Homo sapiens: one gene and its partners. The protein of the gene in region 2 interacts with the protein of the main gene of each other region in a pairwise test. Each region holds a gene or a part of one and is shown on either strand. Other genes may lie near its edges. The genes, in order: SRBD1, FBXL17, TGFBI, SCPEP1, OLR1, CLPX and SCG5.

What was found.
Region 1: the proteins of FBXL17 (region 2) and SRBD1 interact in a two-hybrid assay, tested with the Homo sapiens proteins (one large-scale study listed by BioGRID).
Region 3: the proteins of FBXL17 (region 2) and TGFBI interact in a two-hybrid assay, tested with the Homo sapiens proteins (one large-scale study listed by BioGRID).
Region 4: the proteins of FBXL17 (region 2) and SCPEP1 interact in a two-hybrid assay, tested with the Homo sapiens proteins (one large-scale study listed by BioGRID).
Region 5: the proteins of FBXL17 (region 2) and OLR1 interact in a two-hybrid assay, tested with the Homo sapiens proteins (one large-scale study listed by BioGRID).
Region 6: the proteins of FBXL17 (region 2) and CLPX interact in a two-hybrid assay, tested with the Homo sapiens proteins (one large-scale study listed by BioGRID).
Region 7: the proteins of FBXL17 (region 2) and SCG5 interact in a two-hybrid assay, tested with the Homo sapiens proteins (one large-scale study listed by BioGRID).

Annotation. Positions count from the first base shown.
Region 1 is NC_000002.12:45,411,590-45,416,327, forward strand, and holds part of SRBD1 (S1 RNA-binding domain-containing protein 1), read right to left. Parts: intron 1,705-4,738; coding exon 1,525-1,704; intron 1-1,524.
Region 2 is NC_000005.10:107,857,825-107,861,626, reverse strand, and holds the end of FBXL17 (F-box/LRR-repeat protein 17), read left to right. Parts: 3' UTR 1-2,592; downstream 2,593-3,802. UniProt on the Homo sapiens protein: Substrate-recognition component of the SCF(FBXL17) E3 ubiquitin ligase complex, a key component of a quality control pathway required to ensure functional dimerization of BTB domain-containing proteins (dimerization quality control, DQC).
Region 3 is NC_000005.10:136,052,161-136,056,898, forward strand, and holds part of TGFBI (transforming growth factor-beta-induced protein ig-h3 precursor), read left to right. Parts: intron 1-746; coding exon 747-959; intron 960-1,782; coding exon 1,783-1,920; intron 1,921-2,555; coding exon 2,556-2,701; intron 2,702-3,519; coding exon 3,520-3,656; intron 3,657-4,504; coding exon 4,505-4,635; intron 4,636-4,738.
Region 4 is NC_000017.11:57,004,027-57,007,833, forward strand, and holds the end of SCPEP1 (retinoid-inducible serine carboxypeptidase precursor), read left to right. Parts: intron 1-2,146; coding exon 2,147-2,209; 3' UTR 2,210-2,742; downstream 2,743-3,807. UniProt on the Homo sapiens protein: May be involved in vascular wall and kidney homeostasis.
Region 5 is NC_000012.12:10,168,593-10,174,019, reverse strand, and holds the start of OLR1 (oxidized low-density lipoprotein receptor 1), read left to right. Parts: upstream 1-1,887; 5' UTR 1,888-1,942; coding exon 1,943-2,018; intron 2,019-3,023; exon of another isoform or gene 3,024-3,702; intron 3,703-4,844; coding exon 4,845-4,946; intron 4,947-5,427. UniProt on the Homo sapiens protein: Receptor that mediates the recognition, internalization and degradation of oxidatively modified low density lipoprotein (oxLDL) by vascular endothelial cells.
Region 6 is NC_000015.10:65,178,520-65,183,257, forward strand, and holds part of CLPX (ATP-dependent clpX-like chaperone, mitochondrial precursor), read right to left. Parts: intron 1,686-4,738; coding exon 1,525-1,685; intron 533-1,524; coding exon 415-532; intron 1-414. UniProt on the Homo sapiens protein: ATP-dependent chaperone that functions as an unfoldase.
Region 7 is NC_000015.10:32,686,201-32,690,938, reverse strand, and holds part of SCG5 (neuroendocrine protein 7B2 isoform 1 precursor), read right to left. Parts: intron 4,078-4,738; exon of another isoform or gene 3,594-4,077; intron 745-3,593; exon of another isoform or gene 676-744; intron 1-675. UniProt on the Homo sapiens protein: Acts as a molecular chaperone for PCSK2/PC2, preventing its premature activation in the regulated secretory pathway.

The DNA of each region.
Region 1 (4,738 bases), on a different chromosome or scaffold from region 2:
TCAGATAATAGAAATGTTCCTGATCTCAACAGCAGTTTGGTTACACAGAAGTAGGTATTTGTCAAAATTCAGCTAATATAAACTTAAAATTTAATTGTTACGTAAATGTGACCTCAAAAGAAAAAAATCGTAAAGAATTATCAAATTGTAGTTAATTATATGAATGCTTAAGTATTTAGTGCAAAGTGTACCAATGTCTGTCTGCAATCTTCTTTGGAATGCATCAAAAACATAAGATGGGCCAGGTGCAGTGGCTCACGCCTGTAATCCCAGCTCTTTGGGAGGCCAAGGTGGGTGGATCACTTGAGTCCAGGAGTTTGAAACCAGCCTGGACAATACAGCGAAACTCTATCTCTACTAAAAATACAAAAAATTAGCCAGACCGTGGTGCTGCACACCTGTAACCCCAGCTACTTAGGAGGTTGACGCGCAAGAATCACTTGAACCCAGGAGGCAGAGGTTGCCGAGATCACACCACTGCACTCCAGTCTGGGTGACAGAGAGATCTTGTCTCAAAAACAAAACAAAACAAAACAAGACAAAAAAAAATAAGATGGATGGATAAGTAGATGGATATGTGGAAAAACAGATAGAATAAAATGTTAATGATAACATCTAGGTGTGGCTATATAGGAATTCACTGTAAAAATTTTTTTTCCAATTTTTCTGTATGGCTAAATTTTTTCATCATAAAACTGTTGGGGGAAACCAGGAACTAGTTGGATGTTCACAGAATATTATTTTTTACTTCTTTTTTCTAAGTTTTCTATAATATACTATAGTCTTTTTAAATATTTTTAAAAGAAAGCAAATTAATGACATTTACTAAAATAATCAAATATAAGTGATTTTAAAACAAAAATCTCATTTTAGATTCAATAAAAGTTAAAATATTCACTATATTTGTTACACTGTCATACAATTCAGTAAGAATCTTTAAAAAATGTCGTTATGTAGCAAGTCACTGTTTTTGAACTAATTAAAAAAATTTAAAGCTAATTAAATATGCTGTTAAAAAGATTTTTCTTTTTATACCGTAAACTTCCCTTCTACTCAAAAACTTCCCCCATGTCATTCTGTTAATGTATACTCACTAAAAGTACATCATTTCTTAGATTTTAAGATTTTAATAACCAATAAAGATAATATTAAGAAAGCTGAGTTGGTTGTTTACTTTCAAAAGGGTTTTATCTTTAGAAAAGCACAAGTTTTATGCCAGGTGCTAGTCAATTGTGTCTTGTTAATTTCCAAAACAAACAGAGGGGAGTGCCATGCAATTTCCATTACACACACTTCACCATTAGTATCAGGGTTTATTAGCTTGACAATGCTCCAGGAGTAATGGTTTCATTCCTCAGTGAAATGAAATAATGTGCCACATAACTCAGCAATGCAGAACTTCTGAAAAATGTTGTCACATTAAACGGTCATATTTTTCAGTTTCCATTATGCCAAAACAAAGGCCATTTGCTGTAAAGAACTCACTCTGCATATGGAGAATTCCCACATGGGCCTCAGACTTACCTCATTGCTATGTCATATGATTCTGGATGAATACAAGTTTGGTCCAAAGGATTTGGCTTCAGTAAAACATTCACTGCAGTTTTGCTCTTCTTTTTGCCCTGCTTCTCATTTGTGACCTCAACGTCTGCTGAAGATGTCACAGCAACTCCTTGAATTTGGCCTGAAGTTTCAGTTTGCTGACTATATAAAACCAGAAAAAACCACATTTATGAAAAGGGGAAGGTTGGGCAGAAAAGTCTTCAAATTAAAATGTGCTTACTTCTCTGTCATACAAATATGCGAAAACAGCAACCAGATTTTGACCTTTTACTTCATAGAAACTACCACTTATTTGTTTAAATCACTGGGAAAAGGGCTTTCTGTTACTTAAAGCCAAAAACATTCTTAACTGATTGTATAATTGCCATTCTAAGAGAGAAAAGAGGAAAATGTAGGGAAACAAAATAATAATATTTCCCAGAGCTAAGAAAAACAAGCTCTCAAAAGAATCTATTGAGTGTAGAACAGGATGAATAGAAAAAGACTCATACTTGGCTTCGCGCAGTGGCTCACACCTGTAATCCCAACACTTTGGGAGGCCGAGGCAGGCAGATCACCTGAGGTCAGGAGTTCGAGACCAGCCTGGCCAACATGATGAAACCCTGTCTGTACCAAAAATAAAAAAATTAGCTGGGTGTGGTGGTGCATGCCTGCCTGTAGTCCCAGCTACTTGGGAGGCTGAGGCAGGAGAATCACTTAAACCTGGCAGGCGGCGGTTGCAGTGAGCTGAGATCCTGCCACTGCACTCCAGTTTGGGCAACAGAGGGAGAGACTGTCTCAAAAAAAAAGAAAGAAAAGAAAAGCAAAAGACTCATACTTGACATATCATGGATAAACTTTACAATATAAATAATCTTTAAAATTCTAAAAGGCTTTCAAGAGAGAAAATTAAAACATTACTTTAAAAGGATCTGGAATCAGACTAGCATCAGATTTCTCACTGGCAAACATCAGATGTCAGAACATAGTGGAACAATATCTTAAAGTTTCTGAGAGAAAATGATTTTGAATTTAGAATCGCATACCTAGTCAAATTAGCATTCAAGTAGGAGGGCAAATTGAAATCATTTGCAGGTATGTAAGGACTTAAGTATAACCCATACCAAGCTCTAAAAGAATTTCTTAAGGATTAATTCTAGCAAAAACCAATAAATCAAAGAAAAATGATGATATGAACTACAAGAAACAGTGCAGAAACCACAAAAACTGATTAAATTAAATAAGTGCTCATGAATGATGTAAATATATATACATTATGTGTATATACACATATATACATATACACTATATAGTATATATGTAGTATGTATAGTGTGTATATAGTGTGTGTGTACAGTGTGTATATAGTGTGTGTGTACACACATAGTGTGTATATAGTGTGTGTACACACATAGTGTCTGTAGTGTGTGTACACACATAGTGTGTATATAGTGTGTGTGTACACATAGTGTGTATAGTGTGTGTACACACATAGTGTGTATATAGTGTGTATATAGTATGCACATACACACATAGTGTATATAGTATGTATATACACACACACATAGTGTGTATATAGTATGTATATACACACACACAGTGTGTATATAGTATGTACACACACACAGTGTGTATATAGTATGTACACACACACATAGTGTGTATATAGTATGTACACACACATATAGTGTGTATATAGTATGTACACACACATATAGTGTGTATATAGTATGTACACACAATATAGTGTGTATATAGTATGTACACACACATATAGTGTGTATATAGTATGTACACACACAGTGTTATATAGTATGTACATACACACACATATAGTGTGTATATAGTATGTATATACACACATATAGTGTGTATATAGTATGTATATACACACATATAGTGTGTATATAGTATGTATATACACACATATAGTGTGTATATAGTATGTATATACACACATATAGTGTGTATATAGTATGTATATACACACATATAGTGTGTATATAGTATGTATATACACACATATAGTGTGTATATAGTATGTATATACACACATATAGTGTGTATATAGTATGTATATACACACATATAGTGTGTATATAGTATGTATATACACACATATAGTGTGTATATAGTATGTATATACACACATATAGTGTGTATATAGTATGTATATACACACATATAGTGTGTATATAGTATGTATATACACACATATAGTGTGTATATAGTATGTATATACACACATATAGTGTGTATATAGTATGTATATACACACATATAGTGTGTATATGTGTATATACACACATTTAAAAAACAAAAATATACATCTATAAGAATATATTTTATATATATGGAGGAGTGTGTATATATAGTGTGTATGTGTATATGTATATACACACGTATATACACATGCATATAGTCTGTATACGTATATATAGGTTAAAAAACAAAAATATACATAAAATATTTTTATATATGTATAAAATATATAGAGAGAGTGAGAGAAAAGGAGGGGAGGGGAGGGGAGGGGAGGGGAGGGGAGGGGAGGGGACGGGAGAGGAGAGGAGAGGAGAGGAGAGGAGAGGAGAGGAGAGGAGAGGAGACGAGAGGAGACGAGAGGAGAGGAGAGGAGAGGAGAGGAGAGGAGAGGAGAGGAGAGGAGAGGAGAGGAGAGGAGAGGAGAGGAGTCTGAAACTAAAATCCCAGATCATCTTATCATGGGAGGCAGAGAGAGTTGAAGAGAGAAAGATTGGGAAGGATCCTGTTTCTAGTCTTCTCTAAGAGGACAGACACCTATTAACTCCAGAGGTCAGTCCAAAACCAATTTAAGGATGATCATAAGAATAGAAGATGTACAACTTTGAAATCACTAAGGAGAGATAAAGATGAGATGGGAAAACAAGGAGAGAAACAGAAAACTTATTAACTGATAAATCTAATAAATAGCGTAAAAGGAAAAGAAGAATCAGAAAGCATGATGGAGGGGCAAAATACGTAGGAAGAATAAGCCCAAACATATAAATAAATACAACAAATATGAATGTATTAATAACAGATTGAGTAAAACCACAAAATCTAGCTATGTGTTTCTAAGAGCCATATCAAAAATTAAATGTCATAGAAAGTATAAAAATTAAAAAAAACAGGCATATACAGTAACATTGCTAGCAAATAAATTTCAAAGCAAAAAACA
Region 2 (3,802 bases):
TCACCTGTCTGTGTGTGTTCAAGTATGTGTATTTGTGTCTTGTTTGCATACTGCATACCAAAAGTGCAGTTGTCATTTGTTCCCAAGTGAGCTGGCTTTTTTTCTTAGAAATTAAAGATTATGAAAGCCACAAACTTTTTAGTTTTTAACTTCAAAGGCTTCTTTCTCTTTAAAAAAAAATTATTTTTAATATAGAGTCAAAAAATTGGATGTATTATTTTGAGCTTCTAATTGCTGCCACTTGGAGATGTCCAAGTAAGAAGGCCTTCTTTTTACATGGGATGAATTGTGCACTTCTACTGATGATGACTACAGCAGAAGTGATGTTATACGTACAGGCACTTACACTCTCTCACATATTCACACGTGTGCACATCTACACCAGGGCTCTGATCTACTCTAGATCGTTTCCTGACAGAGAAGCCTTCTTCCAGGCCACTAAGGTAGCATGTTATCCACTGTGGCACTGCCTAACTCCGTGTATCCTCGGGTGGCCAACTTGCTATCTGGTGGGTGACTTGGGGACTAGAAAGAATAAAGCCTTTTCTAAATTTGTTATATAGAGGCAACAGTCTGAACTCTCCTGGCCAGCTCACGAAAGTTAATTATACATTATTCTACAAATGCATTCTGTTGAGCACTAAATATTTTAGTTGGTTTTATGTTAACATTGTGTTAGCTTTTATTTCCTGGATAGTAACTGGTCAGGATATATTTTAATGATATTTGAAACTAATCTTAGCATTGAAGCCACCAATGTAATTAATGGTGTGCAGTTATTTTAAAAACTACAGATCATTTCATTATTTTCTTAATTTTGGTAATTATTAAAGTCTATTTCTGAGATACGAGAGGGTAGTCACATTAATAGAAGATTCATGAGTGAGATATAAGTAGACAATCTTTCTACTGTTGTTGCTCTTTTTGCTTTGCTTTGGGTTCTTGAACAGGTTTTTTGGATATATGCATGTTGTCATTTTGGACTAGTTCTCATGCTACTGCAAAGATCTATTGCTAGCTAATATATGAGTTAAGAAAGAAAATTAGAAAATCTGTTCATTGAAATTCTGTTTACACTTGTCAGAAATAAGCATTTCTTTGTTTAATTAAGGATTGCCAGCTTCAGTTAAGACAAGACCTATCAGTAAATGAATATATGTTTTGATTTAACACATCTTTACAATTAATTCATAATAGGGACTCAGGCTCAAATAACTGTTCCTGTGTCTAGATTTATAATGAGGACATCAGGGAGCCTTTTTAAGCTAAAGAGTGATTATCTTTCACAGTAGAACTAGAAACAAAACCCTAACTTGTGAAGTTGCTATTTATTTTTCCCTGAGTGAATATAACTGTTATTTGGTCTTTAACAGATATACTGAGGTTTGAGTTTCACTTTCTTTAAGTCTCACATTGCTAACATGACATTAGCTGTAAGAAACAAGATAGCTTTACATTTGAATGCCATTTACTGATTTCTAATGATTCTCTTTTTTTGTAAACAACTGTTTCCTTTGATTATGTCAACATGTTTCTGATGTGGCATTTTTGTTTTAATCCCAATCGGTTAGGAAAATCTAGTCAGTAAGCGCCATGAGTATTCTTCCCATAACTAAATGGGTTTCTAATTTAATTTGAAGGGAATAAAATTTGTGTAAGAAAAAAGCTGTTTAACATTAATAAACTATATTTCTTCTTACACATTGAACTGTATCATTTTCATATCCACTTCCCCACCACTGAAATATCTTATTTCACAATATTTTAACTGATTTTTAATCCAAAACTAATTTATAAGACAGTATGTATAGTAATAGTAGCTTGAGTGAATATGCAAAAGTTTAATTTTTATATATGTCATACTATATTTTAAATAGTTAAAAAAGACAAAAGAAGGGAGAGCCATCTATGATATAGATGGTACCATTTCAGTTCAAAGTTGTAATAACCTTTGGAGTGTTACAGTTTGGTTGTCAAATGGTTTCAGAATGTATAATTGATTTTTTTAAATGTTGCATTGTTTGAATCTAAAGTACAGCACTATAACATGCTTTAGCTTGGGGGGGTGGGGGTGGGGTGGGGACTTGCACTTATTCTCTAAAATGTTGACTAATCCAGAAAGCCTGATGCAACATAATCTGGAAAACTGCTTTGGTACATTTGTAGAAATCCGTAGAAATACCATATCCAGCCTCAAAGCATTAATCTCAAAAAAAAAAAAAAAAAAAAAAAAAAACAGCCAGAAAAAAGCATCACCTTGAGTGGTCCTGTGATGGTTGTTGAATGTGTTCTCATTAGATGCTTTGAAATGAGGCTTAAAATAATTTTTCTGGGCAATATAGAGTTTCTTTTTTTTGCTTAGAATGTCATAAATACATGTGAACACGTTTAATGCAGGGCTTTTTATTCTCTCCAAAATGTCAACAGTATTTTCAGAATAAAGACTATGAAATATATTGCTGTAGTGGAAAATTCTGGTCCTTTGTCTTTAATGTCTTTTTGAGTGGATAAAGAAAATTCACCCGGTTTGTAGTTTCTATATTTCCGTGAATCTTTGACCTTGCAGTGGGTTGCAATAAAAGAGAAACAAAACACTGTGTCTTTTGTTTTATTTTAGAGACAATAAATGACCTCCCCAATGCTGGTTGGGTATGATGCATGCAGTGGTCTGTGTATTTCTGTGTTTCACTACAGACTTATGTAGGTTTGACTAACCCAGAATAATAAACGAGACTGAGTTTAGGAGGTTCTAATTGGGCTGGTGATTATAGAGATAAGATTAAAATCTCAAGGATTTACATAAGTGTGTATTAGTCCATTCTCATGCTGCTAAAAGGGTATACCTGAGACTGGGTAATTTATAAAGGAAAGAGGTTTAATCGACTCACAGAAAACTTAAAATCGTGGCAGAAGGGAAAGCAAACAAGTCCTTTTTCACAAGGTGGCAGGAGAGTGAAGAATGAGAACCAAGCAAAGGGAGAAGCCCCTTGTAAAACCATCAGATATCATGAGAACTTCCTCACTATCACAAGAATGGCATGGGGGAAACCACCCCCATGATTCCATTGCCTCCCACTGGGTCCCTCCCACGACACGTGGGGATTATGGGAACTGCAGTTGAAGATGAGATTTGGATGAGGACACAGCCAAACCGTATCAAATGAGTTGTTAAAATCCCATTTCCTAAATAGTCATCATTTATATAGCCATATATTCTATTTTTCCAAAGTAAATAAATTCATAAAACATTTATTGAGTGACAAATACGTATAGGCACTGGAAATTTAAAGATAAATGAACTCACTCCCACTCTCAAGTTACTCACAGCCTAACAAGGGGACATTGTGGGGCACTAGCAATAACAGTGGAGTACAATAGATATAATGATGGGCATAATTATGGGGAGCGCATCTAGGGCCGAGCAGCAGCTTTGGGAAGGGAGAGCTCCACAGAGGAGGAGGATTTTCATGAAGGCTAGAGAAGTAGCGGGAATTTACCAGCTTTGCTTGGGGGAAGGAATGGAAGGCAACCTGGAAAATAGAAAAGTATGTGCGAAGGCATGAGGGAATGAGATAGCATGGAAAGAGCAGGGCCCTTGAGGTAACTGAGTTTAATAGGAAGGTATGTTATATAGAGGCAGCAGGTGGGAAAGGTTCCAGGAAGAAAACAAGGGCAAATCATAAACATTTTATGGCCTACTAAAGAGACTGGACTTGTGGGAAAAATCAGATCTGCTAGAAAAGCATTGTCCTAAATTATTCAAACAAGTAGAAATTTAAAATGCAGGACTTCCACTTCTAAT
Region 3 (4,738 bases), about 28 Mb from region 2:
ACGATGGGTCAGGAGCCCCCTTTGGGCCTCAGCCCTGCCCTGCCCCCTAAAGTAGCACTTGGATAAGCAAATAAATTATTATACTTACTATTTATGGGTGTGGTGAATGGGATGGCAAAGGCCAAGTCTTACTGATCACCAAACCTTAAGATATATCCTGGCAGCTAGTAGACCCTTGGGCTAAATGAACAGAAAACTGGACAAATAAAGTGTACACAAATAACTCAAAGCTGTCATTTGTACACTTTTCGTCTTTTCCTACTACAGTTTACATTTTTATAAAGGTGAGTAGATTTCTAAAATCCCGTGGTAGGCTCTCTTGAGTTTTTCTTGTATCCCTGAAGTTCAGCTACAAATAAGCTAATCACTAACATTTGTTGAGCATTTACTCTGTTGTCAGGCCCCGTGCCGAGTGCTTTAGGTTCAGAATTTCATGTCATCCCCACAGCAGCCCTAGGAGATGAATGCAATTCTTATGTCCACTTGACTGATAAGGAAGTTGAGGTTCAAAGAGGCTAAATGACTCTCCCAGGGTCCCACAGCTGGAAAGTGGCCACAGGGCCCCAGCTGGTTTTCTAGGGCAGCAGGCAGAAGGCGAGGAGGATCTGGGCCCTGTGGTGCCCCAGCCTCATCTGAGGGTCCTCATCTGAGAGAACAGGATCCTCACAGCATGGGCAGGCTGCAAGTGGTCCCTGAGGTTATCGTGGAGTGGACCCTGACTTGACCTGAGTCTGTTTGGACCCCAGACCTGCTGAACAACCACATCTTGAAGTCAGCTATGTGTGCTGAAGCCATCGTTGCGGGGCTGTCTGTAGAGACCCTGGAGGGCACGACACTGGAGGTGGGCTGCAGCGGGGACATGCTCACTATCAACGGGAAGGCGATCATCTCCAATAAAGACATCCTAGCCACCAACGGGGTGATCCACTACATTGATGAGCTACTCATCCCAGACTCAGGTAGGCCAGGCCTCCGGGGGCCTTGGCCCTGCCTGGCCCACCATCTCTTCTGCCATCCTTTGTGGCGGGGGAGGGGAAATTCAGAGATCTTTGGGCGACTTCCCTGCCTGGACCCAGCTCACAGCTTCTCGGCCACTGCAAATGTGTGGGTTGTGACCAGACTGATGTGTCTTGAGCTTCAGGCTTGCAAGTGCAGTGGAGAGGCAGTGGGGAGCTATTGAAGGGGTCTGGGGACAGACTCAATCACAGAGGCCTTTCAGAAGATCTGCCTGCTGTGCATGGGCAAAGAGGGCCACTTGCTGACCTCAGAGCATGTGCTTTCTCAGTAGTGCCCAAGCTGTCCCATGGTCACTGACCCAGTTAGAATGACTGAATGGACTTTGGCTTGTGTCTCATTAGGAATCCTAGCCCCATTCTAGTCTTCCAGTGAGATCTGTCCATGAGTGAAGGAATCTCACAGGAAAAAACAAAATGCTTCTATGGGTGTGGTTGCTGGCCTTATCTACACCACAGAAGCCATCACACAGACTGTCTTTCTTCCCATTGTTAGAATGTGCCCTGACCAAGCAGCCCACAGGGCCTGGGACAGAGGCTGATCTCTGCCTAACTGAGCTCACCTCTCCTCCCTCTCCTCCTGACTGGTTAGATTTTCTAGGTGACTGTTCCCCTGATGACACAAGCCCGCTGGGCCCCAGCAGTGTTTAGAGGGGTTGTTGACTCACGAGATGACATTCCTGCTGATGTGTGTCATGCCCTGGGGTGGATGAATGATAAATGAAAACAGCGCTTTTAACTTTTGAACCCACTTTCTCCTTCCTTGTAGCCAAGACACTATTTGAATTGGCTGCAGAGTCTGATGTGTCCACAGCCATTGACCTTTTCAGACAAGCCGGCCTCGGCAATCATCTCTCTGGAAGTGAGCGGTTGACCCTCCTGGCTCCCCTGAATTCTGTATTCAAAGGTAACATGGGGAAGGCATCCCTGTTAGATTGTCCCTGGAGGCAGCTTCCCCACCCCTGTCACCTCCACAACACTCTCCGATTTACAGCACCCCATGGGACATTAGAACTTCCACTCAGCTCAACCAAAAGCAGATGTGACTTCAGCAGAAACTTCAGAGGCTCTGTTGTTTCATTAGGCAGTGCAGAGAATGCCTTTGGGGAGCCGTTCCTCAGAACTCAAGACTTGACATCTGGGAGGCAGCCGTTCCTCAGAACTCAAGACTTGACATCTGGGAGAGCAGAGCATTCCCTTGCCTTTCTATTTGCAGGGTCACTTGCCAATGTATAGTCAAGAGGTCAGAGTGAGGGTACAGCTGAGCTGCAGCCCCAGGAAGGCAGAGAAGGGGGCCAAGTTGTGTGCGTGCCTGCCCTTCCCTCTTAGGGCAAAACTCCAAACACCCTTGATTATCTGGATCTTCTTTAATTCTCCATAGAAGATACCAGATGTTAAGGAATATTGGCAGCTTCACTTGGTTTCTCAATCCCTGTTTCCAAACTCAAGGAGGGATGGGCTTTTTCACTGTATTTATCTCTCATCACTCTCTTCATTGCAGGAGCACATCTCTCTGGACCTAACCATCACCCTTTCTTGTAGATGGAACCCCTCCAATTGATGCCCATACAAGGAATTTGCTTCGGAACCACATAATTAAAGACCAGCTGGCCTCTAAGTATCTGTACCATGGACAGACCCTGGAAACTCTGGGCGGCAAAAAACTGAGAGTTTTTGTTTATCGTAATGTAAGTTCTGGGTCCTAAATCATGCTCCTGGGAAGCTCCTTACTGTGGGACTTGTATTAGTGTAAAAAAAAATGTCCTCAATAAGCAGGAGTTTGCATGAGAACTGGTTGCTGACAAGGAAGGAAATAATTTCTGGAAAATATAGATAACAAAATGAGATCCTGCAGAAGGATTGGAATCTCTTTTTCTGGAGGCCTTTGAGAATAAACCACACAATTATCCAACCTGTATTGTGAAGGAATAAGTCCTTCTTGAATTCAGGAATTAACACCTGGGAGGAGGGATGGAGTTCAGACTCTTTCTGAGCTTATGAGAAGAGAAGCCCCCTAAACTAAAATACAGCCCTCCTTGGTCCAAAAGGTGCCTTCTCTCTTCTGCTGTATCTTCTTTGTTTTCAAACCCAACAGTTACCCTGGAAATCAAAAAGGAAGTACAACTCAACATAGCTCTTGCCTGGGACCAACCAGCACCATTTGGCTAAAGATGGTTATCATCTGTTAAACAAAGAAATAAATAAATGGGTTCAACGTATTTATTTCAACATTGTCAATGGACCTCATGTGTAACTGATATTCTCATTATGGGACCTCTGTGTGACTTTATTGGGGCCTCTCTAACCGTTCTTTCCTTAAGGAAGACCATTTATTGTTTTATTTCCTGGAGAAAATACATCATTTTATCCCAGCCTTAATAACCCATCCCAGTGTATACTCCTTCATCTTCATGGATAATGACCCTGCTACATGCTCTGAACAAATCAGGAGGCCCCTCGTGGAAGTATAACCAGTCCTTTCTTTCTCTGTCCCTCTTCTGTGCAGAGCCTCTGCATTGAGAACAGCTGCATCGCGGCCCACGACAAGAGGGGGAGGTACGGGACCCTGTTCACGATGGACCGGGTGCTGACCCCCCCAATGGGGACTGTCATGGATGTCCTGAAGGGAGACAATCGCTTTAGGTAATTAGTTCCATCCCCGGGTGGAGCTTCTGCCCAGTGGTCATGCTGGAGTGGGATGTGGGGCCCCAGCTATTTGTCAAGCTTTCTTCTACCTTGGGGATTCAATTAACACTAGCAGTGCACTGCTGCGACCTTCCAGACTTGGGATGGGGAAAAGGCAAGGGTCGCCTTGAAAGCTTACATTGGGAAGAAGGGTTACTTCTAAGAGTGTAATCTTCACATGCATGGGAAGCAGGGAGGGGGGACTACATTTTTATGACTGAAGTGCAAGGAAAACATCACCCTCTCATTGTAAAGCTCCAAGTGAGCCAAGAGCACATAGTTTACAGTGCACGATGAGCCTCTCACTCTCTGCGCAGTATCTGTTTATTGCAACTGAAGCACCCTTGTGAGTTTGTTTTCTTGCCCGGCTATCTCCATTTCTGACTTGCTCATTCACCTTGGGGTGCTGTCATATTGAATGTTTCCCTGTCACTGACTTCAGCCACCTGCACAAGGGCTTGGAGACCACACCCCTCTGCCCTCCCAGAATCATATCCCTGGAGGCTCAGCTAGTCTCTGGGTCAGCCATACCTCTGCCCTTTCTTTTCCCTCCTTTCTCCTGTGGCCTCTGACGTCTGGCCATTTAACAGAGCTTAGCATTTTTGCTGGGTGGAGAGAGCTGGAGCCTGGAATCACTCCCTCTTTGTGCATACGGAGGGCATGAAAACCAAGGTGTGTGCATTCCAGTGGCCTGGACTCTACTATCCTCAGTGGTGAGGTATTTAAGGAAAATACCTCTCAGCGTGGTGAGGTATTTAAGGAAAATACCTGTTGACAGGTGACATTTTCTGTGTGTGTATCTACAGCATGCTGGTAGCTGCCATCCAGTCTGCAGGACTGACGGAGACCCTCAACCGGGAAGGAGTCTACACAGTCTTTGCTCCCACAAATGAAGCCTTCCGAGCCCTGCCACCAAGAGAACGGAGCAGACTCTTGGGTAAAGACCAACTTAAGTACACGTCTCCATTTTTCTAAAGTAGTGATCCCTCAGGGCCCCAGCAGCAAACAGTTGGCACATCAAGGATTGACTTGAAGGGATT
Region 4 (3,807 bases), on a different chromosome or scaffold from region 2:
TATCTTTACTAAAAATACAAAAATTAGCTGGGCATGATGGTGGGCACCTGTAATCCCAGCTACTCAGGAGGCTGAGGCAGGAGAATCGCTTGAACCTGGGAGGCAGAGGTTGCAGTGAGCCAAGATAGTGCCATTGCATCCAGCTGGCGAGATAGCGCCACTGCACTCCAGCCTGGGCAACAGAGTGAGACTCTGTCTCAAAAAAGAACAAAAATCAACTGGGCGCGGTGGCGCCTGCCTGTGGTCTCAGCTGCTCTGGAGGCTGAGTGAGGTGGGAGGATTGATTGAGCCTGAAAGCTTGGGTGACAGAGTGAGACTCTGTCTCAAAAAGTAAATCAATAAATAAACAAATAGACTTAATCTAAAGGGAGAACAAACAAGGCAGCAGGGCACAGAGGGAGAGGGCATTATTTATGGCTCTCAGGATCTGAGTACCTTCAATATTGACTAAAAGAAAGAAAATTAGAACGTCTTAGAGCAAGCACTGTTACAGGTTGAGTACCCCTTATCTGAGATGTTTGGAACCAGAAATGTTTCAGATTTTTAATTTTTTTTTTATTTTGGAATATTTGCATATCCATAATGAGATATCTTGGGGATGGGACCCAAGTCTAGGCAATGGAATTCATTTATGTTTCATATACACCTTATACACATAGACCGAAGGTACTTTCGTACAATATTTTAAATAATTTTGTGCATGAAGCAAAGTTTGTGTGCACTGAGTTATTAGAGAGCAAAGGGTGGCTATTTCAGCCACCCATGGCTCTTCAACCAATCTGTGGTTGTTAGGCATCATATCATTTCTGACTCCAAATTTATATGCTGCCGATAAGCAATCTTTTTCTTGCATGTAGTCACACATAAGTACTTCACAGTAAGAAATACAACATACCATTAATACAGTGGAAAAGTTGTGTGTTCAGAGTAACTGAGCAGCACAGTAGCATGACCAGAATACCTGTGTCAGCTGCTAGACAACAGCAACAGCAAGCAACAGCAGCTTTCGGTCTCTACCTACAATGCTGTGTTTTGATTAAAAGGTTACTGTACTGTAACCCCCTTGGGGATGCAGAAATAAACTGTGTGTTGTGCGCCTGCATTTTGAATGCAGCCGCCCATGGGGCAGGTGTGAAATGTTCCACTTGTGGCCTCATGGTGGCACTCAAAAAGGCTGGAATTGTGGAGCATTTTGGATTTTCCAATGAGGGATGCTCAGCCTGCCCTAGAGAGAAGTCCCTGACGAGGCTGGTAGGAAGGCATGGAACAAGCCAACCACGCGCTCTGTATACTAGAGTTCAGGCCCATTTCCTGTTGGTTTGTCACATATAGAACAACAGATCAGTTGGGGACAGGCTTAAAATAGCCCTTGGAGACTGTTGTTAAGTCGTCCCCAAACCACTTCCCCTTTCATTGATTAAATGACATTTTAGGATAACCCACCTTGCCTGTGCCTCCTGGGGACTCTTGGCAGAAGAGTCAAGGATGGGTGTGCCATAGAGAATCATGGAGCCAGGGAATTACATAACGGGGAGACCATATACTCCAACCCCTTCTGTGTAGGGAGAAACTGAGGCCTCTGCCCTTCCCCCTTTTGATGCTGTGTGGGAAGGAAATTTTAAAGGACTTATTCTAAAAATCTGAGGGAAAACAAAAGAAAGTTGAATAACTGCGAAAATCGGATGCCACCCAAAGGGCCCTGTTTGTTTTTATTATTTGCGGCTCTCTGCTGTGAGCTCCCTTCTCAGCCATTTCTCTATTCTCAATCCGGGATCCCTTCTAGACAGATGCCTTTAAAATGTTTAGAATCTTCCTTCTTCCTTGAACAGGCTAGGTCTAGTATCATTAGCATGACCCTTACCAAGAAATCAACAGATCAGCTCCAAATGGAGTAGAAGGTTCTTGTCTTAAATGCTGACTTCTCCAGGTCCCTGCCACCCAGCCCAGTCAGGGCCCAGAAGAGCTTTCATCCAGTGCAGGAGTCATTTTCAGGAAGGACCCTCTCTCAGGGATGTGCCCAGGTGTCTGCACAGGTTGCTGTCACAGAGCTGGCTCCCTTTTGGGAGCAAGGTTTCAGGATGTTGCCTCTGACCCCAGCCCCAGGAATAGCACCAGGAGCACTAACTCAGATGTTGTTTTTTTCTAGGTTCCTTCTGACCAAGGGGACATGGCTCTGAAGATGATGAGACTGGTGACTCAGCAAGAATAGGATGGATGGGGCTGGAGATGAGCTGGTTTGGCCTTGGGGCACAGAGCTGAGCTGAGGCCGCTGAAGCTGTAGGAAGCGCCATTCTTCCCTGTATCTAACTGGGGCTGTGATCAAGAAGGTTCTGACCAGCTTCTGCAGAGGATAAAATCATTGTCTCTGGAGGCAATTTGGAAATTATTTCTGCTTCTTAAAAAAACCTAAGATTTTTTAAAAAATTGATTTGTTTTGATCAAAATAAAGGATGATAATAGATATTATTTTTTCTTATGACAGAAGCAAATGATGTGATTTATAGAAAAACTGGGAAATACAGGTACCCAAAGAGTAAATCAACATCTGTATACCCCCTTCCCAGGGGTAAGCACTGTTACCAATTTAGCATATGTCCTTGCAGAATTTTTTTTTCTATATATACATATATATTTTTTACCAAAATGAATCATTACTCTATGTTGTTTTACTATTTGTTTGACATATCAGTATATCTGAAACACCTTTTCATGTCAATAAATGTTCTTCTCTAACATTTTTAATGGCTGTGGAGCATTCTACTTTATGGTTGTACTCTAGTTTATTTACAAAATTCCCAGTTGTTTCCGACAAGTATAATAATTTCTAGTTTGTTGCTATTATACATAGTGCTCTGTTGATTCACCCTGATAGTTAGATTTTTTTGTACCTCCTTATTTTCTTAGAATAAATTCATAAAAGTGTAATTATTTAGTCAGAGGATTGCCACATTTCCTTAAAATCAAAATAATTAGCTCAGGACTTTTAACTTTTTATTCATAGCTCAAGATCTACATAAGGAGGTTTGATGCCGTGGCTCACACCTATAAACCCAGCACTTTGGGAGGTCGAGGCAGGAGGAATGCTTGAGCCCAGGAGTTCAACAACAGCCTGGGCAACATAGGGAGACCCCATTTCTACAAAAAAAATAAAAACATTAGCCGAGCATGGTGGCACACACCTGTAGTCCCAGCTACTCAGGAGGCTGAGGCAGGAGGATCACTTGAGCCAGGGAGGTTGATGTTGCAGTGAGCCATGATCAAGCCACTCACTCCAGCCTGGGTGACAGAGACCCCATCTCAAAAAGAAAAAAAAATCTGCATAGGGGATCTAACAGCTTCTAGGACTGTCTGAAAGAAATATCACCTCTTGTAGTTGCAGGGCTGAGATTTTATTTATTTATTTATTGAGACTCTGTGACCCAGGCTAGAGTGCAGTGGCACAATCATGCCTCAAATGATCCTCCTGCCCCAGCCTCCCAAGTAGCTAGTACCACAGGCAAGCACCATCACATCCAGCTAATTTTTAAAATTTTTTCGTAGAGTTGGAGTCTCACTATGTGGCCCAGGCTGGTCTCGAACTCCCAGGCTCTAGCAATCCACCTGCCTTGGGCTCCCAAAGTGCTGGGATTACAGGCATGAGTCACCAAGCCTGGCCAAAGGCTGAGATTTAAAAAAACAGCCAGGCACGGTGGCTCCAGCCTGTAATCCCAGCACTTCGGGAGGCCAAGGCGGGCAGATCACGAGGTCAGGAGATCGAGACCATCCTGGCTAACACGGTGAAACCCCATCTCTACACACACACACACA
Region 5 (5,427 bases), on a different chromosome or scaffold from region 2:
TTGCTTGGTGGGTATAGAGTTTCAGTTGGGGAAGATGAAAAGTTCTGGAGATGGATGGTGGTGATGGCTGCACAACAATGTAAATGTACTTAATGCCACTGAACAGTACACCTAAAAATGGTTGAAATGGTAAACACTTTATGTTCTATAATATTCATGGCATCCAAAATAACTGAGTCACTGTAGAAATGATAATGTGCCCTTTTCAGTGTGATATCGTTTCAGTATTTTTTAATTCTTTTTTTTTTTTTTTTTTAAAGGGAGTCTCGCTCTGTTGCCCAGGCTGGAGTACAGTGGCACAATCTCAGCTCACTGAAAATGAAAAGCATTTTCATTTTCCACCTCCCAAATAGCTGGGATTATAGGCTTGCAACCAGGCCCAGCTAACTTTTGTATTTTTAGTGGTGACAGGGTTTCAACAGGTTGGCCAGGCTGGTCTCGAACTCCTGACCTCAGTGATCCACCCCCCCCCTCAGCTTCCCAAAGTGCTGAGATTACAGGCATGAGCCACTGCACCTGGCCAACTTTTTCAATTTGTTCTCAAATACTCTGCACATAATAAAAGGAATATAGGAAACAGGGAGGAGGAGGGAAATGGAATCCTAATTAGGCTGTCAATATTGGTAATTTTTCCTAATAGTTTCCTATATGTTTTATTTATGTATTTATTTTTCCATTCTTCCTTTGTGTATTCTTTTCTTTGCACTTTTTTTTCCTGGAGTAATTTAAAGTAAATGCCAGATATCATATCATTTTGCTTATAAATACTTCCTTCAGAAGACATCTCTAATAGATATATATCTGGTTAGGAGGTTGTCAAGGGAAAATAGAAAAGTATTCTATCAGTAAATACATATAGACATACTTATGGGTCTCTCATGTAAGCGTCTTTGTGACATGAGTCAATCATGGATTTTACTGAAATACATTATTTGATGGGTAATTCAACTGTGCTGAATATTAGTACTATACTAATAATTATTATTTATTGGCTTCTTATTATGCTCCAAGTACAAAGCTTGTCATTTTTAACCAGCGTGTCATTTGAATTCCTATAGCAACGTGACATTTTTCACAAACCTAGTGTAAAAAAGCTTATTATTTTTACCCAGCATGTCATTTGAATTCCTATAACAATGTTATCAGGTAGACATTATCCCTAATTTCCAGACATGTCATTTGAATTCCTATAACAATGTTATCAGGTAGACATTATCCCTAATTTCCAGACAAAGACATAGATTCAAAGTATTAAGATTTCCCAAGATTGTAGACTAAAGGAAAGTACTGAAACTAGCTCTTTCTGCATTCAAAGTGCTCTCTGCTGCTACGTTACACTGGCACTGCATGAACTAGTAGCCCCAGATAAATTCTAAAATCACCCAGGACACACCATCGCTGGAAATGGGAGCCATATGTGATTCACCCCAAAATTCTTAGATCCATTGCCAGATAAAACAGTGAAAATCAAAAGAGAATATATCTGATTCGTAAAAGACACCATATAGAAACAGTCTGCTAATGAAATTAGCAAACAAACATTGGAATCAAATATTTTGGCCCATAATTCTGGCACATTTTTTACAAATGTAGTGTGACTTACTCTCTTTGAATTTCAGTTTCTGTCTCTGAAGAGTGGGTACAATATCTCTCCTCTGATGCTCATGAAAAATAGTTTTCCCTTTCATAAATTACTTAGCGAAATATCCTGAAACACCTTCAGAATCACCACTTTCTCCACCTGCAATACACATAACTCAAGAATTTGCGTCAGCGAACTTCCCAATATGAAGCAAAGCCTCTCCTTCCTCCTACCAATGATTGAGTCATTCTTCTATTAGATAACAGTAGCTATTTAAATACTTCTGCAGAAGCTCACATATTTTTAGTTTGTTGAAGTTCGTGACTGCTTCACTCTCTCATTCTTAGCTTGAATTTGGAAATGACTTTTGATGACCTAAAGATCCAGACTGTGAAGGACCAGCCTGATGAGAAGTCAAATGGAAAAAAAGCTAAAGGTACTAGGGATGGGAAAATGTGTACAGGGAAAGAATCCCAGTGTTAGCCCCAAAATGTAAATTCACCGAAGAATGGGATTAGAAAGCTAAACACCCAAGTATGGGAAAATAGAATTAATACCATTTACTTAAAAGAAAAACAAGAAGGCTATAATGATGATGATGATGACAACTTATTTATAACAATTTATACTGAGTATTTACTACAGGTTATTCTATATGTTATTCACTTTCAGAGTATTATTTCTCAGAATCTTCGCAATAACATTTTGAGATTGGTACTATTACTATCTCCCTTTTACAGAGAGCTAACTGGGCATCAGGAGGACTAACAACATCATCCAGTTTCACGGAGCTAATAAGTGGTAGAGCTAGGACTGTACCACAAACTCCCATTTATCCAGAATTCTATACATCGGAGGGCTCGGGAACCAAATTTATCTGGTGTATATAACGATAATTTCTGTAAGAGTCCTTCAGGCACTACAAAAACCTGAAGTACCTCATGAATTATGCAGGCAAAGTAAATGATATTCAGTATAGTTTAGCATAAGTTACATTTTGTTGTGTACTACTGCTTTGAAAAATTGTAAGTTCTGTTTGACCCATACAGTAATTAAATTGCATAGCTATAAATTAATTCATAATCCCAATTCCACAGACAATCTGGGTAAATTGCCTTTTATTCTATATCTGTTCTGAGGAAAATGAACAGAATATAAGGAGAGAAAGAGAGACAAGTATTGTCAGAAATTTGGATAAAGAAATTCCAAATTACATTTCCAAAAACAAAACAGAAATTTCTCTCAATAGAGAACATAAGTGTGAGCATGGAGTGATTTAACATTTGAGCCAATGAACTAAATTGCTATAAAAACTGCTGATATTTATAGGTAAAACCAGAAGTGAACAATAGTCATTCGTTTCTTTACTCATTCATTATTTGTGTAGTAAATATTGAGGGTCTGAATTTTACAATAATCATGAGATTGATTTTTCTTTCAGAATCTTGGTTAGATCGGTACCTACTGCAAAGAATCGGATTGGTTTATGATTGGAAAATCACTAGTAGGGGCAGCAGTTGGATTAATGGTCTCTGCCTACCAAGGACACAGGACAAAGAGAATCTATAGAAAAAGGGAACACATACCTTCCTTCACAGGGTCCTGTGATTTTCTTTTTCCTCTAAAAATTTAGTTTTTCATTATTTAAGAGTGATGAGGCCAGGCGCGGTGGCTCACGCCTGTAATCCCAGCACTTTGGGAGGCTGAGGTGGGCGGATCATGAGGTCAGGAGTTCGAGACCAGCACGGTGAAACCTCATCTGTACTAAAAATACAAAATTTAACCTGCTGTGGTGGTGCGCGGCTGCAATCCCAGCTGCTCAGGAGGCTGAGGCAGGAGAATCACTCGAACCCAGGAGGCGGAGGTTGCAGTGACCTGAGATGGCGCCATGGCACTCCAGCCTGGGCGAAGAGCAAGCTCCCCCTCAAAAAAAAAAAAAAAAAAAAGAGCACGATGAGGGTATCTGATGCCCTACAATGTGGAATGAACAGTGACCACAGAGTTGAAAGATTTACATAGAGGTATTTGCCCCTGAGGCTAGAATTAGGCAATTATTTGCAAGAGACACAGCTATCTTCTACAACTTCTCTGCTAGCTTGCCACACACACTCTAGAAGCCAGTAAGTATTGAATCAGAAGATGAACCATATTTATCCCTGTCAAGTTTCTATCTTCTTTTTATCATTTGTGGAGTCTAACACACTACCTTTGACATATGAAAACTTTGAATATATCTGACCACTGCTTGACTGGATCATTATACATTCACACTGGAAATTGTATTATAATATTTCAAGTCATGTAGCTACTGACAATTAGACTAAAGACTTATTTTTGGGTTTTAGCATCTGTGTGATCTTAAGCAAGTCACTAAACCTTTCAGTCTCCTTATTTGCATACAGAGGATAATGATAGGAGTACCTTATTTGTTTATCTCACAAGGTGAGGAAACCAAATACATTGTATGGGATGTTTTCCTACACAACCAGTAATATCTGTGATTTTTTTTTTTTTAGTGGTGGAACACATAATTGTATATTCATACACCTGTGAGCTATGTGATTTTTTTTTCAAAATGGTGAATATTTCTCTTGTAAAATCAAGCCTACACTTGGCGTGAGTGTAGGATATGCTGTTAATATAAGCTAAATTAATATCAAGGTTTCATCCCTACTTTTCTTTGATTAATAACCCCAGTTCCAGGTTGTAATTTTGGTGGACTCATAATTGAATAGCATAAAATTATTCATAAAGTTATTTGAGGTAATCTCAGTTGATTAACTGAAGAAAGCTTGTTTGCTTGATGTCTGATATTTATGTTACTTTTGTGTGCACATGTGTACACGTGGTGTATATTAAAAACTTCAGGCTCTCTGCACTGTGGATGAATTTGATCCAACCAAGCTAGACTGTGAGTTTCTTGAGGAGTAATTGTCGGGAAAGTAGATAAAGTATAAGCTTTAGAATCATATATTTAGATTCAAATATCTGGTATCGAATCCTGGCTCTGAATTTACTGGCTGTGTGACCATGGGTAAATTACTTAAATTCCTTAACTCTCCCTGTTTTCCATTCCTAAATGTGTATGATGAATTATTTGCAGAGCCATTTGGAGGACTAGTGGTATGGAATGCAAACTATTTATGTCTATTTACTAAAACATAAACAGAGTAAATCACCAAGTACAGACAGGCTCCAAGGAATGGTTTGCTTACTTGTTCACTCTTTTTTGTCTTTCTGATTCTATCCTCTGTCACTCTAGGTCTTCAGTTTCTTTACTCTCCATGGTGGTGCCTGGCTGCTGCGACTCTAGGGGTCCTTTGCCTGGGATTAGTAGTGACCATTATGGTGCTGGGCATGCAATGTAAGTGCTAAAATACGGAACTGATGTTTATTGGGGCAGGGGTGTTGGAAATGAGGTTAATAAATATGGTTTATAAGTTTCTTTCATAACAACTACAAACAGCCTTGATATAGATTCATTTTAGGCAAAATGTTTTTAAGAGTGACCATGAAAATAAAGGGGTATATTGTTCATCTTCCAATGGATAGAGCCATGAAATAAAAATTACAATTGGTAGGCATTTTTTTGTTTGTTTGTTTTGTTTTGTTTTGTTTCTTTTGTTTTCATAACTTCATGGATAGGCCGGGTGCGGTGGCTCACACCTGTAATCCCAGCACTTTGGGAGGCCAAGGTGGGTGGACCACCTGAGGTCAGGAGTTCAAGACCAGCCTGGCCAACATGGTGAAACCCCATCTCTACTAAAAATACAAAAAGTAGCCGGGTGTGGTGGCACATGCTTGTAATCCCAGCTACTCAGGAGGCTGAGGTAGGAGAATAGCTT
Region 6 (4,738 bases), on a different chromosome or scaffold from region 2:
CTATTTCATATAATCCATATTTCTACACATTTAATACAATTTATATATATATATTTCTTTTTTTTGAGACAGGGTCTCTGTCACCCAGGATGGGGTACAGTGGCATGACCATGGCTCACTGCAGCCTCAACCTTCTTAAAAGAAGTAGCTAAGACCACAGGTATGCACCACCATACCTGGCTTTTTTTTTTTTTTTGGAAAGACAGGTGTCTCAACATGTTGCCCAGGCAGGTCTTGAACTCCTAGGCTCAAGGGATTCTCCCATCTCCTCCTTCCAAAGTGCTAGGATTATAGGCATAAGCCGTTTGCACCTGGCCTATATTTATACATTTTACATAATTTACATATTTTTATACACTTAGTAATTTACAGAAAATGTAGGGAAAAAAGAACAGTAGAAGATGTAATACTTACATACAAAGGTCTCTACATGTGTGCACAAGTCGCCACATTTAGGACAGCGCAGCTGGTTTCCACCTTTCCCAGAATTCCCAGAGCCTGATTTCTTACTACTTCCCTCACTTGCTGATTTCTAACGTTTATGAAGGAGAAAAAAGGAAGAGTGTCAATTATTAGTTTCAGGCAACCAACTTAAATGTAAACAATACTGTTTGTAATTAATTTTATAATCTTCTATATTTCTAGGATGAAATTATTAGTATATTTTATAATTCTATTACTGGTGTCAGAAGATCTATTTACTTCAAAAATCAAATCAGTTCTAGTAAATACATATATATCTGCAGTCCTCCTTTGTATAACATGTGCCAACATATATAATAAACAGCTTTCATTCAATGACTCAGGCACTAGAAAATTTACTAAGGGTAAAAAACTACATTTCAATGAAATTGAATCAGGAGTTATTATCATGGTAGGTAGTGACTCTGACTATTCTTAGATCTAACTTTTCTCATCTCTAAAATGGGAATAATTTTACTCACATCAGAGTCACTGTTAAGTATGGATATGTAAGTGTCTCACATTTTGTCTAACATATAAAATTAACTCAAGTGTTAGTCAAATTCACGTAATGAAAAAAACTGTTAAGTCACTGACTCAATACAACTACCAACATAAGTTATACTAGCTACAACATAAAGTTATACCAGAAATATGAAATTTTTAGGCTACCAGAGTAGCCCAACATTAAGTTATACCACAAATCTGAAATTTTTAGGTAGAGGATAAAGTGAGGTTTATACTGCCATGGGTTATAAGAGTTATATGAAAGCAGGAAATGATGGCTATTCCTAATTCAATCCTACTGACTGTCATTTAATGACACTTCTTTACTACTTTGGGGTGTAAGAAATTTTAATTACTGCTTACTATGTGCAATGCTTATAAAAGTATTTTAAGGTTCAAAATGAAACATCTAATTACATAAAATTATTCAGATCATTTTAGCTATCTCATATTTCCTACAGAAAACATATAAGCCAGTAAGAGACAGTACTGTTATATTTTTTTAAAGGAGGGAACTCACAATGTGTACAGATGCCAATAAGATAAAATAATTACCTTATTTCCATCTCCAGAACCATCTTTACTTATCCCATCTTTTGAGGCAAAGTATGCTGGTGTTTCTGTAAAGGATCTAAGAGGAGCTCTTTGCAGAATCTGAGTTTCAAATGTCCCAAGCCTTCCTAAAACTGACATATGAATGCGACCACCAGAAATACCTGAAAATAAAAGGAAATCTACATCAAATATAGACATGCCTCAATAAATCCCCTGGAAACAAAAATTCCTTGAGCATAAAGGAGGTTGAAAAAAAGCTATCATTTTCACAGTAGTATAAACTGAGAGAAAAAAAATGACACCAACGGAGGCAAAGTCCTTTCAAAAACAGGCCAGCAGGTCTGGGCCTCTGAAAGATTCTAAATAAATAAAGGTGTTTCTTTCTGTATGTGTCCTTTGGAAATAAGGCAAGATCACCCACGTCATAACTTTTTCAAAGTTTGAATGGACTTCAACATCTGCCTCACCTGTAAGATTTTGAAAAAGGCCATTTATGCCCTATATTCTTATTATTTCTACCAATGAGAATAAACATCTGACAGCAACTCATCTGTTATTATATAAGAATACTATCTGGGCCGGGTGTGGTGGCTCACCCCTGTAATCCTAGCATTTTGGGAGGCCTAGGCGGGTGGATCACTAGAGGTCAGGAGTTCAAAACCAGCCTGGCCAACATGGTGAAACCCCGTCTCTACTAAAAATAAAAAAAAATTGGCCACGCATGGTGGTGGGCGCCTTTAATCCCAGCTACTCGGGAGGCTGAGGCAGGAAAATCGCTTGAACCCGGGAGGCGAAGTTTGCAGCGAACTGAAGTCGTGCCACCGCACTCCAGCCTGGGTGACATAGCGAGACTCCATCTCAAAAAAAAAAAAAAAAATCTGTAACAATGGAAACAAACTTCAAATGTTCTTTAAGGTCAGGCGCGGTGGCTCATGCCTGTAATCCCAGGGTTCGAGACCAGCCTGGCCAACGTGGTGAAACCCTGTCTCTACTAAAAATACAAAAATTAGCTGGGTGTGCTAGCAGGCGTCTGTAATCCCAGCTACTCAGGAGGCTGAGGCAGGCGAATTGCTTGAACCCAGGAGGCAGAGGTTGCAGTGAGCCAAGATCATGCCACTGCACTCCAGCCTGGGCAACAGAGGGAGACTCTGTCTCAAAAAAAAAAAAAGTTCTTTAAAAAATTGTGTTATTCCACTTACACGTGGTACTTAGAAGGCAAAATCATAGAGTCAGTGAGTAGAATGGCGGTTCCTGGGGGTTGGGGAAAATGGAGAGTTATTGTTGTAATGGGTACAGAGCTTCAGTTTCACAAGATGATGGCAATGGTTGCACAGTATCAATGTACTTAATACTACCGAACTATACACTAAAAATAGTTAAGTCTTGTAAATTTTATATGTATCTTACCACAATAAAAAAATTGAAGGAGCCAGGTGTGATGGCTCACGCCTGTAATCCCAGCACTTTGGGAGGTTGAGGTGGGTGGATCACTTGAGGTTAGGAGTTTAAGACCAGCCTGGCCAACATGGTGAAACCCTGTCTCTACTAAAGATACAAAAAGTAGCCAGGCGTGGTGACAGGTGCCTGTAATCCCAGCTACTTGGGAAGCTGAGGCAGGGGAATCACTTGAACGAGGCAGAGGTTGCAGTGAGCCGAGATTGCGCCACTGTACTCCAGCCTGTGCAACGGAGCGAGGCTCTGTCGCAAAATAAATAAATAAATAAATAAATAAATAAATAAATAAATAAATAAAGATAGTATCAATCCCAAAAGTAGGCTTAGAAAAAGTAATTGAGGGGGCCAGGTGCAGTGACTCATGCCAGTAATCCCAGCACTTTGGGAGGCCCAGGGGGGCAGATCATAAGGTCAGGAGATCGAGACCATCCTGGCTAATACGGTGCAACCCCATCTCTACTAAAAATACAAAAAATTAGCTGGGCATGGTGACACGCGCCTGTAGTCTCAGCTACCCGGGATGCTGAGGCAGAAGAATCGCTTGAACCCAGGAAGCAGAGGTTGCAGTGAACCGAGATGGCACCACTGCACTCCAGCTTAAGCAACAGAGTCTCCGTCTCAAAAAAAAAAAAAAAGAAAGAAAGAAAGAAAAAGAAAAAGTAATTGAGGGAGAGTGACAGATGCAATCAATCAAAATGACCATTCACCAATCATAAAATCCTCATAAAAATGATAAAGCTCTGTAGCAAAGTAATTGGGATTTCTAACACTTTTTGTGCCATGAACCCCTTAAGCAGTCTGGTGAAGCCTCTGAATAGATCTTCTCAGAATAATATTTTTAAATGTATAAAATAAAATACATAACAAAGGAAACAAATTATAATGAAGTAGTTATCAAAAAATTTTTAAAATATGCCTCTTTATTAACAAGCAAAATTAAATAAGATCTAACAGCTTTTTAAATAATTACTATGATTTCAAAGTAGCAAAAAGTATGGACAATATTCTGAAATATCAGCAACTATAATGTGATATGAAAATATTTCTGATTTTGATTGATGACAAATCCACAGACACTTCTAAGACTACTGTGGATGTGTTGCCCACATTCATAGGCCAAGGAAACGTTGTGTTTCAGTTAGAGCTTAGTGAAAATAAAGTTCACAGAATCTCTGAATTCTATTCAAGGACCCTTTGGAGGCCTGTAAACCCCAGGTGAAGCTCTGAAAGCCAAAAAAGAGAAGTGTTTCTGTAAAGTATATTTCACCAGATTACCTGGCAGCAACCAGAAAAGACAATTTAAGTTTCACTATTTACAGAACTTTATCATACAGACAAAGCTTTCTAAATTTCAGAACAACTGTTTTTAAAAAGAAATACTAGTCCGGGTGCGGTGGCTCAAGCCTGTAATCCTAGCACTTTGGGAGGCCAAGGCGGGTGATCTCCTGGGGTCCAGGAGTTGGAGTCCAGCCTGACGAACATGGCAAAATCCCGTCTCTACTAAAAATATAAAAATTAGTGGGGCGTGGTGGCGCGCGCCTGTAACCCCAGCTTACTCAGGAGGCTGAGGCAGAAGAATTGCTTGAACCCAGGAGACGGAGGTTGCAGTGAGCCGAGATCGCGCTACTGCACTCCAGCCCGGGCAACTTAGCAGATTCCATCAAGACAGACACACAAAAAGAGGCCAGGCGCGGTGGCTCACGCCTGTAATCCCAGCACTTTGGGAGGCCGAGGCGGACGGATCACAAGATCAGGAGAT
Region 7 (4,738 bases), on a different chromosome or scaffold from region 2:
TGGCGGTGGGGGGGGGCTTTACTTGTGTTGTTTTATTTATTTGATTTTTTTTATCTGGAGGAAAATGATGTATAAAAGAGGTGATTCGTTTTGTTCTAAATAAAATACTCTGACATTAAGAAAAAAAAAAAACAAAGACAACCACAGAGTTCTGGTAAGGAACAAGTTTATACAACATGTATCCTCTGAGCTGTCCACTTATAAAGACTTATTTTTAGTGATAGATTTGGAATTGAAAATGACAAATGCCAAGAATGAGCTTCATCATTTTTCACGTTCATTAAAATCTACCCCACCTGCAATTTACAATGCATATCTCTTGCCCAACCTCAACTATGCAAGGAGGCGGTGCCAGAGTGAAGGAGCCTCTACTACCAAAAACACCAGTACTGGCTACAGCCTCTATCTCCTGCTCACTTGGGGAATAAATCAATTTAATATCGGAAGGGAGAAAAGGCAGACTTGCAGATCATTTCCTTGAGGAATGAGGATATTGCTGTGAGGCTCATTCTCTACAGTCTGTGGTTGCCTTTCTGTGAACGTAAAAACTCCTGAGGCAGAGAATATCCGAAGAGCTGGTGTTAGAGCTGGGAAGGCCGGGAAGGGGTGAGGACATGTCTTCTTCATGTGTACCATTGTTTTCAGCTGCCTGAGCTGGATGGAGTGTGGAAGAACCTGAGAGCTACTACCATGGGGTGGGACTGTCAGCCAGCTCTGGCAGAGTTCCACTGTGCCATCAGCCAGGTAAAGCCAGCATCATTTAATTCTTTAGGAGATCTTGGGGGCAGATCCTACCCATAAGAGTCTTCATTCAAAAAGAAATGTGCCCCAGCACTTTGGGAGGCCGAGGTGGGAGGATCACGAGGTCAGGAGATCGAGACCATCCCGGCTAACACGGTGAAACCCCGTCTCTACTAAAACTACAAAAAATTAGCCGGGCGTGGTGGCGGGCGCCTGTAGTCCCAGCTACTCAGGAGGCTGAGGCAGGAGAATGGCATGAACCCAGGAGGCAGAGCTTGCAGTGAGCTGAGATTGCGCCACTGCACTCCAGCCTGGGGGACAGAGCGAGACTCCGTCTCAAAAAAAAAAAAAAAAAAGAAATGCAAAAGGCCTGGCTAATCTTCCTCTCAAAGATGGTCCCTGTGTCTCCTTAAGAGCTAGGGTTAGGATTAGCAGGATAATGCTTCCCTACCCCTGCATGAAAGTGTCTGGGACATTCTTAATTAGCCCTATTATTGTATGGACTTGAAGGCATTGGCAGGTATGGTATGGGTAAGAGAAGCATACAAATTGAATGAAAAGAAATCAGCTATCTCTCCTCACGCCCATTCCTTGTTGATTCCTTGGGGAGTGGTGAGCCTGTTTTCCATGTGAGTAGCAGGTTCAAGTTCATTAAAAGGGCTTTCCATAGTGCCATCAAGATTTTGGACAACTGTCCAGATCCTGGTTTCAAATTACACTCCTAAATACAGCCAGGGAGCTTCCTGGAGAAAAGTCTAATTCCAGGGCTAGGAAGGAAAGTGCAAGGATGGGTGAAGATGGAATAGCTAATTAGGTCAGAAAATAAAGAAGTGCTCAAAAAAATGATGAGGTCCTGTCAAAAGGAAAGAAAAGAAAGCTTGAGGAGACTCGCACTGGCCAAATTTAGGACAGTTTGAACACCAGAATACATAATAATATGCATTATGGAATCCATGAATCCATACTTATACTATATAAATAAACACATTTATAAATAAATAAATAAATAGAACAGCAGGGGAAACTCTTGCTTAGAATAGAATGTCAACTAGTAAATGCAGAAAGAATAGCGGAGTAAGAAAATCATCATTTTGCAGCTATCATCATTATTGAATCTGGTAAGCATCATCAATGGATGTTATATTTGTTGGTTAAAAGTTGAACGAGGAGCAGAATATTTACACAGCCCCAAAACTTCTTCCCACAGAGTAACTATTAATTTCTTTTTTTTTTTTTTTTGAGACGGAGTCTTGCTCTTTTGCCCAGGCCGGACTGCAGTGGCACTATCTCGGCTCGCTGCAAGCTCCGCCTCCTGGGTTCACGCCATTCTCCTGCCTCAGCCTCCCAAGTAGCTGGGACTACAGGCACCCGCCACCGCGCCCGGCTAATTTTTTTGTATTTTTAGTAGAGACGGGGTTTCACTGTGTTAGCCAGGATGGTCTCGATCTCCTGACCTCATGATCCGCCTGCCTCGGCCTCCCAAAGTGCTGGGATTACAGGTGTGAGCCACTGTGCCCGGCCTATTAATTTCTAAGGGAATTTTACACCAGAGAAACCTGGAGGGCAGCACCTTAACAAAGTGAACACTGCCAGTCATGAGACAAACTTCCCTGACATCATGTGCTTGCTGATGTAAAATACTAAGTAGGACATAAAATACTAAGCAGGTCTAATCACATGGAAACCTGAGTCAAATCCACATTGAAGAGCATTCAACTCATCAAACATGTTAAGGTCAGGAATGACAAAGCAAGTCAGGGAGGGGTCTGGTCCCTCATATCCCCGTGGCTCAGGCTCTGGCTGTGATCAGCTACTGATGAAAAGGTGTGAAAGCATTTGGAAAGGAAAAATATTTGCTTTTTGAGACAACTTTTTCTTAAGTAAATAACACTCAGCAGTTAATGTGTAAAGGGGGAGTGGGTAGCTGGCATGTACAGGAGCCAGCCATTGGTGTGGTCACCACTGGTGTAGTCACACACATTGTCTGGAAGGCAGCCAGCCCTCGGTAGGACTCAATAGGACTACCACACAGGACAGGTTAGGAGCAATGAGCCATGAAAAGATAGGGAATGTATTCAGCTTGTAAAGTACTCTGGAGTCAGATGATGGGGTTCAAATCCCAGCTCTGTGGGCTGAGCAGGCTCCTCAGCTCCCCAAGCCTGCATTTTCTCATCTGGAAAGTGAGAATGACAAGGATGGGCAGATTGAATAAGATTACTGAGTATTTAGAAAGGAGTCTGGCATATAGTATGTGGTCAATAAATATTACTATTTACTATTGTATTATATAGTATTATGTATTATGTAATACAATTACTATTATCATTCATCTTTGTATTCCCATTACCTAACACGGGGCCCGGAAGGCATATGATGTGTCGTTAATAAATGTGTCTTGATGCACTAACGAAGAGAGAAATGCAGGAAACAAGACAGACACTGAAATGTGTAATATGTGAATCACTGTTAAAGATGCAGCTCAGCTCCAGCTACTGTCAAAAACAAGGAAGCGTTATTAGCAGATAAGGAAGCAGGGTCTTTGTGCTGTTCTATCATGAAAGATGATGACTCTGTTAACTTAAAGGATGGCTGGGCTGAAGACAAGCTTGAGACTGTCATTCCATATAAGCACTGAGGAAGGTTTGTGGTTCCCAGTTTAGAAAAGCAAGACATACTCAATTCCCACTTCCATGTGAAAACCAAGGAAACAATGTTTTACTGGTAGGTAGTAATGAGAAAATAAACAAGGAGACCTAAGTTTAAGTAAACACATAATTGCAGATGATAAAAGGTATCTAAACATTGTTCCTGGTCATTGATCTCTAATATTTTCCTTTTACATTTGATCCTAGATTCTAGTCTTTAGCTCTAATGTGGACAAAGAATAGGAAACACTGAGAGAAACTCAAGTCAGTGTTTCGAGAAGGAAGCACAGAGAATGAAGGACCGTGGTTGGCCTCATACTGGGGCACTGGAAGTGAGTGGAATTTGATGAGAGAAATCTGTGAAGATTTTCAAGAAGAGATGAAGAGAGCTGAAAAGAGATGTTTTCATCCCTCCCACCTCATCATGCCACCAACTGGGCTCCTTGCCTTCACTCACACCTTGACTCAGTCTCCCTCCTTTCTTTCTCTCATTCCTAGCCTACTGGTGAAGCTGAAGACTTTCCCACCTGAAACTTCAGTGCTGCCCTCCTTAGTGCCTTTGACTTCCTCTGTGGCTACTACCCCAATCAGCCACACCAGTCCTCAGTTCTGGATCTTCCTCTACCCTTGTCTTCCATCTTCCCTAATAATTGCCCCTGGCCCTCAGAATACAGACGAAACATGAAGTGGAGCGGTGCTAAGTTGGGTTCATTTCATTTTCATGCAATTCATCTCAACCGTGGGACTATAAGCTCTCTGAAGACCAGCACCATGTCCTGATGACTCCTGCATACTGAGCATCTAGCACAGTGCCTGGAACACAGCAGGCTCAATGTGTTCTCTTTGTGCCTTATCGAACCTGGCTTTTGCTTCTGTTTGGCAATGCTTCGATCACCTCTTGTGGATCTCTTCCCAGTACTCCTCCGCAATCTACTCTTTCCCTCACTCTCTCTTCTCTTTTTTATGTCCTTCCTCCCTCTATTCCTCTCTTTTCTTTCTTTCTAAAATGCATTCAAAGAAAAAGTTCATATTGTCCATTTCATATGAACCTGACATATCTCTTCTTTCTTCTTCATGTTATATTTATTCCGTATACCAATTCTAGTTAGTTTTTCCCCCTTTAAAATGTCTTGGATTCTCACCCTTCTTCACGGTGTTCACAGTCATCATAACTGAAATGACTCCCCATATTTTCTTCCTGTCTAGGGTTAGTCTCTTCTCCTTTTACTTCATCCTTTAATATGCCATCAAAATAACTTCTTTTATAGAAGGCTTTTATTATTTCAGTCTCCTATTCGAGAACCTATAGATGTTTTTCTATTTAATTCAACATGTTTAAGCTCTACTACTAG